Linked DNA regions of Homo sapiens: region 1 is linked to region 2. A link means that fine-mapping ties the variant in region 2 to the plasma level of a protein whose gene starts in the linked region. Region 2 holds a variant in brackets. A gene starts in the other region. All regions are shown on one strand. Distances are between the middles of the regions.

What was found. PIP is the posterior inclusion probability: the model's chance that the variant is causal. The UK Biobank Pharma Proteomics Project read protein levels with antibody pairs (Olink). The fine-mapping took linkage between variants from a reference panel, not from the people measured, so its PIPs are less certain.
Region 1: it holds the start of DDAH1, and the variant in region 2 is fine-mapped to the plasma level of the DDAH1 protein (UK Biobank, PIP 0.97).

Annotation. Positions count from the first base shown.
Region 1 is chr1:85,461,748-85,467,130 of GRCh38, reverse strand. It overlaps DDAH1 (dimethylarginine dimethylaminohydrolase 1), which reads left to right and starts at 1,972. Exons shown (of 6, transcript NM_012137.4): 1 at 1,972-2,388. The coding sequence starts at 2,086. RefSeq lists silencers at 1,714-2,123, 2,364-2,563.
Region 2 is chr1:199,039,212-199,044,594 of GRCh38, reverse strand. It overlaps LINC01221 (long intergenic non-protein coding RNA 1221), which reads right to left. Exons shown (of 3, transcript NR_126351.1): 2 at 2,923-3,039. Among named protein-coding and RNA genes, the nearest start is that of LINC01222, 23 kb to the right of the region's middle. The variant G/A (reference allele first, on the strand shown) is at 3,003.

The DNA of each region.
Region 1 (5,383 bases), 110 Mb after region 2:
GTGCAGTGGCTCACGCCTGTAATCCCAGCACGTTGGGAGGCCGAGGCAGGCGGATCACCTCAGTTGAGGAGTTTGAGACTAGCCTGACCAACATGGAGAAACTCCGTCTCTACTAAAAATACAAAATTAGCCAGGCGTGGTGGCACATGCCTATAATCCCAGCTACTCGGGAGGCCGAGGCAGGAGAATCACTTGAACCCCGGTTGCAGAGGTTGCAGTGAGCTGAGATCGCGCCATTGCACTCCAGCCTGGGAAACAAGAGCGAAACTCCATCTCAAAAAAAAAAAAAAAAAAAAAAGAATAAATAATGAACTAATTTAAAAATAAATAAATTTTATATTTAACCAGGGCAAGCTTAAGGTAAAAGATCAACTTTCACCTGTAACTTTGATGGAAATCCTCCATCTGAGGACACCATTAAGTGATTTCTGACGCTAAACTGGGGCTAATGGGGCTGCCTGGATCCCCTAAGAATTTTGCTTTAGAAGTACTACCTAGTCGGTCTTAAAGGTTTGTTATTTTACTTTTGGTCCCACTTCCCAATGTCAGTGTCAGAGCTGTCCTTGAGACTCCTCAAATTTGGGCAGGGCGTGGTAGCTCATGCCTGTAATCCCAGCACTTTGGGAGGTGGAGGCGGGTGGATCACCTGAGGTCAGGAGTTCGAGACCAGCCTAGCCAACATGGTGAAACCCTGTCTCTGCTAAAAATACAAATTAGCCGCGAGTGGTGGCGTGCACCTGTAGTCCCAGCTACTCAGGAGGCTGAGGCAGGAGAATTGCTTGAACTGGGGAGGCAGCAGTTGAAGTAAGCCGAGATCGTGCCACTGCACTCCAGCCTGGGCAACAAGAGTGAAACTCCGTCAAAACAAAACAACAACAAAAAACAAAAAAAACTCCTCAAATGTGAAGCTGAGAATTTTGAAGCTCATTTATAAATTCACACCACCCTTGTGGGAGGGGAGAGAAGGCAGATCACATCTCTGGGCTCAGTTGGGGCAACCATTCTAGGATGCTCAGAGAGACCTGCTCCTAGAAATCCAGAGTTTCCTAAAAGCTGGGATCAGAGTTCTGGCAAGAAGGCTGTAGCCTGGGCCTTGGCCCTAGACCACCAAAAAAGTGAATACAGGCTTAGGCAGTGTTCATAGAGGCCCAGCATCTGGAACAAGGGTGCTGCTGTAGTCTGTGCTGGTCAGACCACACAGGAAGAATTGTTTATTTTCCGGATACTATGATTTTAAAAGGATACAAGCAAATTGGTGTGTATCAAAAGGAAGCTGACCAGAATGTTGAAGGGACTTGGAAACCAAATCACTAGTTACTTTTCAGTGGTTTGGGCTCCAGGACTGGAGGGGGTTTAGGGTGGGGGGTAGAGGATGGTGTTAGGCAGCATAGATAATTAGAACTGTTTTCAGATATGCAAATGCTGTTTTGTGAAAACACACACACACGCGAACACACACAAAACAAGAAAAACTTGTACTTTAGGTAAGGCCAGAAAACAGAACTGGGACCCGTGGGATTTAAGCTCAACATGAAGAATCTGTAAACCATTATAGCTCTTCAAAAGTGGGCTAGACTTTGTAAGCACGCAAGGTTTAAACTGTTCAGGTAAAGACCAGGAAGCCCTCCAGCTGCTCTGTCCAGACCGAGGCCGGCTCTCCAAGTCCGCGCTGGGGACGATGGGAGGTGTGCACCTGCGACAGAACACAGGTACCGCCAGGTCCGGGTAGCGGTGGCTTTTCGCCGAGGTCCCCCGCCTCCGCATACTTCTTGCCCTCGCTGCTTCCCCGGCCGCCTCTCCTGGCCCCACTCCTCGCCCGGCGCTCGCCGCTACAACTCCCGCCTGGGCTGGCGCGAGACCCGCGAGCGCCGGAGTGGGCGCGCGGGATGCGCGCGGGCCGGCGCCCGGAGCTCTGGGCATGCTCAGTCGCGCGGGCAGGGCTCCGGGCGCGAGCTGGGCTCCTTCTGCACCACATTCAGCGGCTGCCAAGAGGAGCCGACGGGCGCTCGCAGGCTCAGCGCGCGCTGCCCGCGGCAGGACCCGGCCGCCTCCGCCGCCGCCGCCGCCCCTAAGCCTCCCGAAGCCATGGCCGGGCTCGGCCACCCCGCCGCCTTCGGCCGGGCCACCCACGCCGTGGTGCGGGCGCTACCCGAGTCGCTCGGCCAGCACGCGCTGAGAAGCGCCAAGGGCGAGGAGGTGGACGTCGCCCGCGCGGAACGGCAGCACCAGCTCTACGTGGGCGTGCTGGGCAGCAAGCTGGGGCTGCAGGTGGTGGAGCTGCCGGCCGACGAGAGCCTTCCGGACTGCGTCTTCGTGGAGGACGTGGCCGTGGTGTGCGAGGAGACGGCCCTCATCACCCGACCCGGGGCGCCGAGCCGGAGGAAGGAGGTAACTGCCGACTCGAGGGGCGCGGCCGGGGCGCGCGCCAGGCCCTCCCCCGCCGCCGGCCGCCGTGTTGCCTGGGGAGTCGCGCCATTGGCCCTCGGGCTAGTAGTTCACAACTTCCCGTCGGGGGGCGAGTGTGTGTGTGTGTGTGTGTGTCAGAGAGTCAGAGAGAAGTTCATTGTTCACACCTCCCGGCTGCCGGCAGCCTTCTGGAGGATCCGATTCAATGTGGTTGTACGGTCTCGGGCAGGTGGGTGGGCGGGGGATTCCGTCTCACGGGCATTTTTATTTGTGAAAATTAAACGGCAGCGACGACAGTGCAACTCTGAGTGTTTCCCAGGGAGCGAGGGCCGCGAGGGGTGCCGCTCCGGTAGGGCGGGTGGAGGCTGGGCGTCCCTCCAGGGGGCAGCGCCAGTCGTGACACCGAAGCCCCCAAGTCCTGCCTGGCGCTCGGAGCAGGACAAGCTGGATGAATTAACGGGGTGTCGGTGCCCACAGACCTGGGGCTTCTCAAGTTAGTTTTCAGTGGTGGCGAGTGAGTCCCAAAGAACGGGACTAGTAAGTGAATGAATGGAAGGAAAAGTGTTTTGTTGGTGAGCTGTGCTAAATGTGTGCATGAATGGGCTAGGTTTGAAAAGCTGTACTCTGTGCGGTGTTGGGTGTGTGTGCTAGCGAGCGTGTTTAATTAGAGATGGTTGTTTCACAAATTCCATAATTTTTATTCTCTATATTTTTAAACTCACAGCAATTAAGAGAGTTTTTCTGTTCTCAAGGGTTGTAACTACTTTGAAATACTGCAGCTTGTGAAATGGCTGATTGCTTTAAGTGCAATGTAGGTTAGTGGGGAGAGACAAATAGAGTGAGATTGGATTTTAAAATGCCATCTGGCCTGGGATTCTTCTCATTGCCAGTTAAGAGCCCAGGCTCAAGACTCCGTTGCTATTGGCATCCAGTGGCATTGCAAGAAGCTAGTGGTTTCTTTCATTTCTGGAGATTTAAGAATTTTTTTTCTATTTTGTCTGTATTCACTTCACATTGGAAATGCCTCATAGAGCTTATGATAAAATATGCTTATTCCTCACCTGCTCCACTACTTGGTTGATGGAATGCCACATGGTCTGAGAAAATAAGCATATTCTACTAATTTCTCATCGAGATAATCAGCTTTTATTTCACCCTCCATTAACAGAAAACCAAAAGAGTAACAGATCTCTGCTAGCCCTTTGATGTCTTTGCCACACCTCTCCATCTTTGAGTCTGTGAGATGTCCCACTCTTTTAAACTGATAAGGAATGTAATCCCATTTGAATACTTTCTAATGCGTTCTAGGCCAAATGGCAGAGCTATGGTTTGAACTTAAAAGAGCAAAATCGATTTCAAAACCCTTTCAAAATGGCACTCTTTTGATGAGAGTAGTCCAATTTCTTCTCAAGAGACTGTCACCATATTTATTCACCCATTTCATTTTATTCCTATAATAAAAGCTTCCAAGCTTTGGCCTCCCTGATACCTAAGTGAGCAGTGATCTTTTTCCCCTGCCTAGATTTTGAAGCATACATTTTAAATTGGTTTAATTCTGATATCAGCCTGGTGGCCCACTGCCAGAAGTCACATGGTGTAGTGGATAAAAACATTAGACTGAATCTCAGCTCTACCACTTTCTAATTCTGTGACCTTTAGGGAGTGTCTCTTGCCTCAGTTTTCGCATCTATACAGTGGACATAATAATACCTGTTTCACAAAGTTGTTGTAATAGATGTATTAATCTACCTGAAATTCACAGGACAGGACATTTGATGAATGTTGACTATTATTATTCACTTAACTATGGATCAGGGAAGATTTACTCCGTTAATAAGAAGTCAGCTATACACTGATGTAGTTAGTGACATCTCTCTACTATGTGATACTGCCTCTGGGTTTGGGTCTCCTGCTGGTGCCTGCCTTTGCATTGCACATGATCTGGGTCACCAGGGTAACAGGCCTCCCAGGCAGGGAGAGGAATATGGGCAGTCAGTGTTGGATGGGATGCTTCTGGAGGGCAGAGTCATGTAGGGCAATGCTTGTAGAAATCTCTCACGGCACCAGCTCACCGCCTTGGTAGGTGTTAATGCTTGTTGAGTGAGTGGATGAATGAATGAATGATGAATGAAATGCTAATACAAGAAGATAGTTACTTCAAGACCCTCTATGGATTGCTGTATATTTTTTTCATGTGATGTCTGCATTCCCAACTGTGAAAATCCACAGTAGCCAAGGAATTATTTTAAAATTATTGTCACTGATCTCTGCCTCTAGTCTTGTCAATTTTCCATTCCATTCCCACACTGTAGCCAAGCTGGTCTTTTAAAAACTCAGATCTGATCCTGTCCCTTCTCTGACTAAAATTCTCAAGGGGCCCCCACTGAGCTTAGATAAACCCATTGAGCTGGGCTGTGCTTGCCTTTCCAGCTTCAGCTTCACCTCTGATCCCACCCCAAGCATCCCCTGATCCATGGATCGAGCGAGGTTCTTTCACTGAAGCTCACCAGACTATTGCTTTTATTTTGTCCGGGTACTCTTCCTCTTTCCTCTCTTCCCTTTTATCTGTCTTAAGTTCTCAGCTTACTGTTATCACTATTATTAGCTAATATTTATTGGGTACTTGCCACTTGCCATACACCATACCAGATTTATGATGTGCATTTCATTAATACTCACATCAACTCTTTGAACTCAATACTATCATAATTCCTATTTTAAAGTTGGTGAAACTGAGGCCTGGAGAGATTAAATAAATTGGCCAGGGTTATAGAGTGTAACCTGTAAAACCAGGATTTGAACTCGGGTTTAGAGAACTCCAAAGCTCTAGTCCCACTTAGACATCACTTTTCCAAGCATGGAATTGGTTCTCCTTTTATGAGCTCCTAAAACGCTATAAACTTCCTTTTATATATATCATACCACGTGATAATTGCCTGTTTACCGTTCTGTATCTCCCACTATTATGTAACCTGTC
Region 2 (5,383 bases):
AACTGCAAGGCAGGGTTAGAAAGCAGAGCACACTGGGGATTCAGAAACTATGAACTATGAACTATCTGAACCAAGTTAGGAGATTTGGTTGAAGAGATTTTATCTACAAGGGGAAGATTAAAGATGCTTAACGAATTTGAAATATGTGACCAAAGGCTCTTTGCCAGCTCTTCTCCAGCTTGCTCTAGACCAGACAAAGAACTTCATTTAAAGTACAGCATGAGAAATGATTCTGATGAAAGGATTTGTTAAATGCTGTTACAGAAGTCAAGTACAAGGTCCTCAAAGTCATTAATCATAGAATTTAGATTTACTCATTCATGGTTGTGTCTTAGTCCTCCTTGTAACTTAGATTTATTCCATTTTAGTGATTTTATGTGGTTTACTTTAGAAAAAAATGCCTTAATGATCCAACTGGACCAAAATAATATGATCATCTTTAAAAGCCATTAAAATGACATTCAAAATCTAAAAGTGAGTGAATCAGTGATCATGAGGACATTCAAATATTGCATCTCAGGCCTCATAAAATCCATTGATACCATATTTTTCTCTAAACCAGAAATATTTAGGCCAAAATGGTTCAAGCTATTTTGATCATTTATTTTTTTTATCTGGTCTGGGACCCTGGGCCTAATGTCTTACTGAGTAAAAATCAATTGCTAGTAATTATACTAGAATAAGTACACAATATTGGAAATCAGAAAACAACCTGATCCTTGAGCCAATCTTCAATACGTTTATGGTGCTGAGTCTTACTTTCCTTAGCTATAAAATAAGAGGATTGGACTAGATTCCTACAAGTGGTTGCTCCCATTTTAATTGCTTTAATCCTAGGAATCTACTATATTTAAAAATCCAAAAGAGCTGTATTAAAGGACAGTGTGACAATGTGAATATGGACGTTGTAGAGAGTTTCAGACAAGTCTTAAATGTTTACAATATAGCCATCCTGCTACATAAAAGTTTGTCTCCCAGAGGATATATCTAAATCATTCTTTGGCCTGCCTTAGCTCTGGGAGAGACTAAACAAGCATCATGCATGAATTGTGCATGCTTGTAAAGCACACAGAAATATGTTATTAGAAAGTAGTATTTAACCTAAATAGAAAATCAGTAAAGTAGCATTTTAAATTATCTTGTAGCCTGATGAAAATTCAATTAGAACATGACACCCAAACATTTAGGAAATGAAGAAGTTTTCTAAGTACTTTAAAAAAGGAAAGAGAGATTGACTCTTCATATTTTCAAGAAGTAATTGGGAGAGTTATGTGAACTGGAAGAGGCCTCAGATGTGAAATGAACTAGGCTTCATGTAAATGAAAGGTATAATGATGGCTAAAACACGTACAAATCAGATAGCACCTGCCTGAAGTACTTAGACCGGGGAAAGAAGGAGAAGAAAGAAGATAGTGTTCAAAATGTTTGCTTAGATATTGATTAGAAGGTGAAATGTCAACTGGGCTTTCTTGCTAGACTGGGTACCTAGCAAACGCGATCCCATGAAATAGGCAAAAAGAAGTAAAGAATATGCACATCAACTATTTTATGTGACATGGTCTCAAGTTAGCGATTGATATACTAAGAGTGTTTGCCTTTGAGATGTTTTTCCCCAGTAATAGTATCTAGATTGCTTGAAGAAATTACTTTAAGTGCTTTAAGAAACCACTTAAAATCTGATAAATTCACTAGATGAATAGAATAGAATGAAAGACCAATGAATTATGCTTTTAATGAATTTATTGCAACTTTGTTGTCATTTTCTACTTCACACTTCTTTTTACCACGTATATTTTATAGCAAAAACACACAATTTTTCCGTGTGGGTGAGAATTTGAGTTATAGCCACAATATTATTGTTGAAGTATGTTTTTCAAAGTGTTTACAATAAAATGACTCTGGTAGTATGTTACAATATTGTGAAAGAATAATAATAATGATCATTAAAAGCAAAGTAATGAACAAAACCAGAAGCCACAAAGAAACCTTTCCAAGAGAGCATTTCCAACATTTTATATAAGGATGAATATATTCTTATATTTCCTTATATGGAGAATAATATATATGACATGCTGGAAGAAGAATAAAATAACTTAAAAAAAGAGAGAACGAACCAAACACAGAATGTACTTATTTTTGTTACTGTTCAAATTATTATGATGGGAGTTGCACAATAATGTTTAACAAGCACAAGCTTCAGACTCCATCACATCTGAGTTCAAAGCCTAAGCCCTAGGAGCTTGGTCAAAAGCCTCAATCTTTGTGAGTCTGTTTGCTCATCTATAATATGTGGATGGCAGTTCTGAGCTTATAGAATTTTCATTATAATTAAGTGAAATCACAAAACCAAATCAGTTCCTCTTAAGTGAGAAAAAGTGGCAAACTTTGTTGTTACTATTTTAATATTTATTATGAATATTTATACTTACTACCTTTTTCAATATCTATAATTAGACAATAAAAATATTTCCATTTTAAGGCATTCAATAATAGCTCTGTTAGCTTATAAAATGCTTCCTTGAGTTTCTTTTGGTTTGGTAAACATTTTTTTAAAAACCTTCATTGAGATTGCTTGGTTTTCAATATGATAAAGTGTAGGTCTCTATTTTAAACATCTTTTCTGAGAAGATAAGTAGCTATGTGATTTGCAAAATGCACAGCTTGTAAGTCTTGTAACTTTAAAATATTTCCCTTCTACTCTCTGCCTGCAGCCCTTCATCTCTCCGTTTCTTGGTCACCAGTTGAGTACAAACTCTCTGGTTTTAAAATGTTATCTATGTAAATTCTTCTGCCACAGCTGGACAAGATGCATTCAAGAGTTTTTCTGTTTCCTGTGTGGTGAAGCAGCTTTCCCCTAACGACTATTTCCCATCAGTACCACAAAGACCTACCTTCTTAACCACTGTTTCAACGGTTTCTTACCACTTCCACCTTTCTGTAGAACATTTCATTTGGAAGGAGAGTCACAAATACTTGTTCACTGGGCTGTTCAGACTGATAAC[G/A]TCTCTTGGGACTTGAACATTGATGCACAATTCTCATCTGGAAAAAAAATTCAACTGTCAAACATTGGCAAAGAATACCAGAAATGAAAACAAACTCTTTTCTGTCTTAGTGTCACCATAAGATAATTTGTTTTGCTCTCTTAGAGAATAAAATTCTTTACCTTTTTTCTAAAAATCAAAGTAAAAACATTTCATTATTTGTCTATTTTGCTTACTTTAGCAAAAATTTTAATACATTTGGATTCTAAGCATGTGTTTTACTGATAAATGCATTAAATTGTTATTAGAAACTTTAGACCTAAGAATAGAAAATCAAATGAGATTGACAAACATGGTAACATAGGCTTAATTTTTTAATAAGGAATGAGAGAATTCTAGTACTTTATTCTAATACAATAAATAATGTCAAGACTTTTCTTTACATGTTCAAGATTTTTCATCTAAAAAAAGACCCATGTTAATTATTAACTGCAGAAACAAATTATAAGTATTATGTCTACATTTCTTATAAAGAAATAATATCTTAATATAGCCTTTAAAAATCATAATTATTTTACCTGCTCATTTGTAAAATACTAAATGTATTTGAATTATTTTTCATAAATTAAGGAATTATAAAAGTTTAACTGTCATTTGTATATTATATCTTGATCTTTTCATTCATTTTTATTTTCTGGATTTATGGTCTTTGTTCTTATGGTTTTCATTCTGTTATATGTTTCCAAGATATTTTCAAATAGAGTTTTAACTGAGTGATGCTAGATTAGAACATTTTCTAGTTCAAAATATTTGATGATTCAATAACATAAATTATGTTATGGCTCAAAATTACCCCTCCCCTCAATAAGCACACACTGATAAGCAATGACATGTGTGGAATAAAAATGACAAGAAAGTATGGCTCTGTCTCAACAAAAGGCAGAACTGACAGCTAATGTTTGTTATTGCTCTAAGCACCAGAAAGTGTGTACTAAAGAATACTAGGTTTTTAGACTGTGAATAGGTGTTCCACATACAACTACAGACATGCCAATATCTACTGGAATAAATTGGATAATTTCTTGCTGAAATAAAGTTAAGTTGGTATCTTTACACAGGTGTTCTCATAGACTTTGATGTGTTAACACTGTGAACATTCCAGAGAAGGATATGGCACAGATCTCTTGAAGCACCTCCTAAAACTATGAAAACACCCTTCGGCTCTATTAATATGTAAAACAAATATTGGCAAATTGTTGATTAAGAATCTGCTTATGCTGTTTTTCTGTACATTTAAGTAACCACAAATTGTGTTTTTTCTTTCACAATATGTCACTTCCTTTCCATTCTCAATGTCCCCACCCTAGTTTGGGCTTTTGCCTCTCTCTGCCCACCTCTAGTTTCTCTTCTTGTTCCATCCTATGAATTTAATCATATTAATCTTCTTAATGCAGCTCTAATAAGATCACAAATTTCTTTGAATATTTGCCACAGTTTCCTTTATGAAGAGCAAAAATCTTTCAAAATGTAATCTGATATGCAGGGGTATCTATAATGCAATCCCAACCAACTTTCTAACGTTTTTTTTTTTTCAAATGGCATTATTTCTTGACCCACCTGTTTGATGAATTGACCTGGTCACCAGTCATGTCAGAGATTTATTTTCTCTGATCTTTTGATCACATTAGTCCTTTGTCTGGAATATGCTCAACCAGCTTGTTCCTATTGAGATCCAGTGTAGTCCATTCCTTGGTTCAAATTGAAATGAAATTTCCAGCATGGAACTCTCAGATTCTTCCAACAGGACAAAGCCTTCCCCTCATCTGAAACTCCATAAAAGTTTCTTACAAAACTTTTGAGGTATATATCACATCTGTGTGTAGTTGCCTCAGTTGCCTGTCTAAACTGTGAAATGGTTTGGGATAGGAGATAGAACATCAGGGAGAGATTTCTGCTAGGAAGTCCATGGCTTTAGGCAGTGGTCAGTTATATATGAAGTGGGTGCAGGGGCATTCATCTGATGAGTTTATTATTCTGATAAAGTAAATGCTAAAACATTTCAGAATCACTTCTTTAAGAGAAGAGCTACAAGATACTCATATTACCTTCGGCAAAACAGCTTTTATTATTTTATCCTTTTTATACTTTATTGAATACACCAAATTTAGAGTGTGTTTTCCAAATATTTTATATGCCTTCATATTTGCTTTTATTCTTTGAACAGAAGATAGAAAAAAAATTCCTCTGTCCAAAAGAGTACATCTTCTTTTCCTCCTTTTACTAGTGCTATTGCAGTCCTTCAAGACCCTAAACCATGCTAGCCCCAGATAGGTATGTTAACCTTAAAGACAGCGCCTAGGAAATTCTTGAGTGCATCACATCTAAAAATCTCTATTTATGAA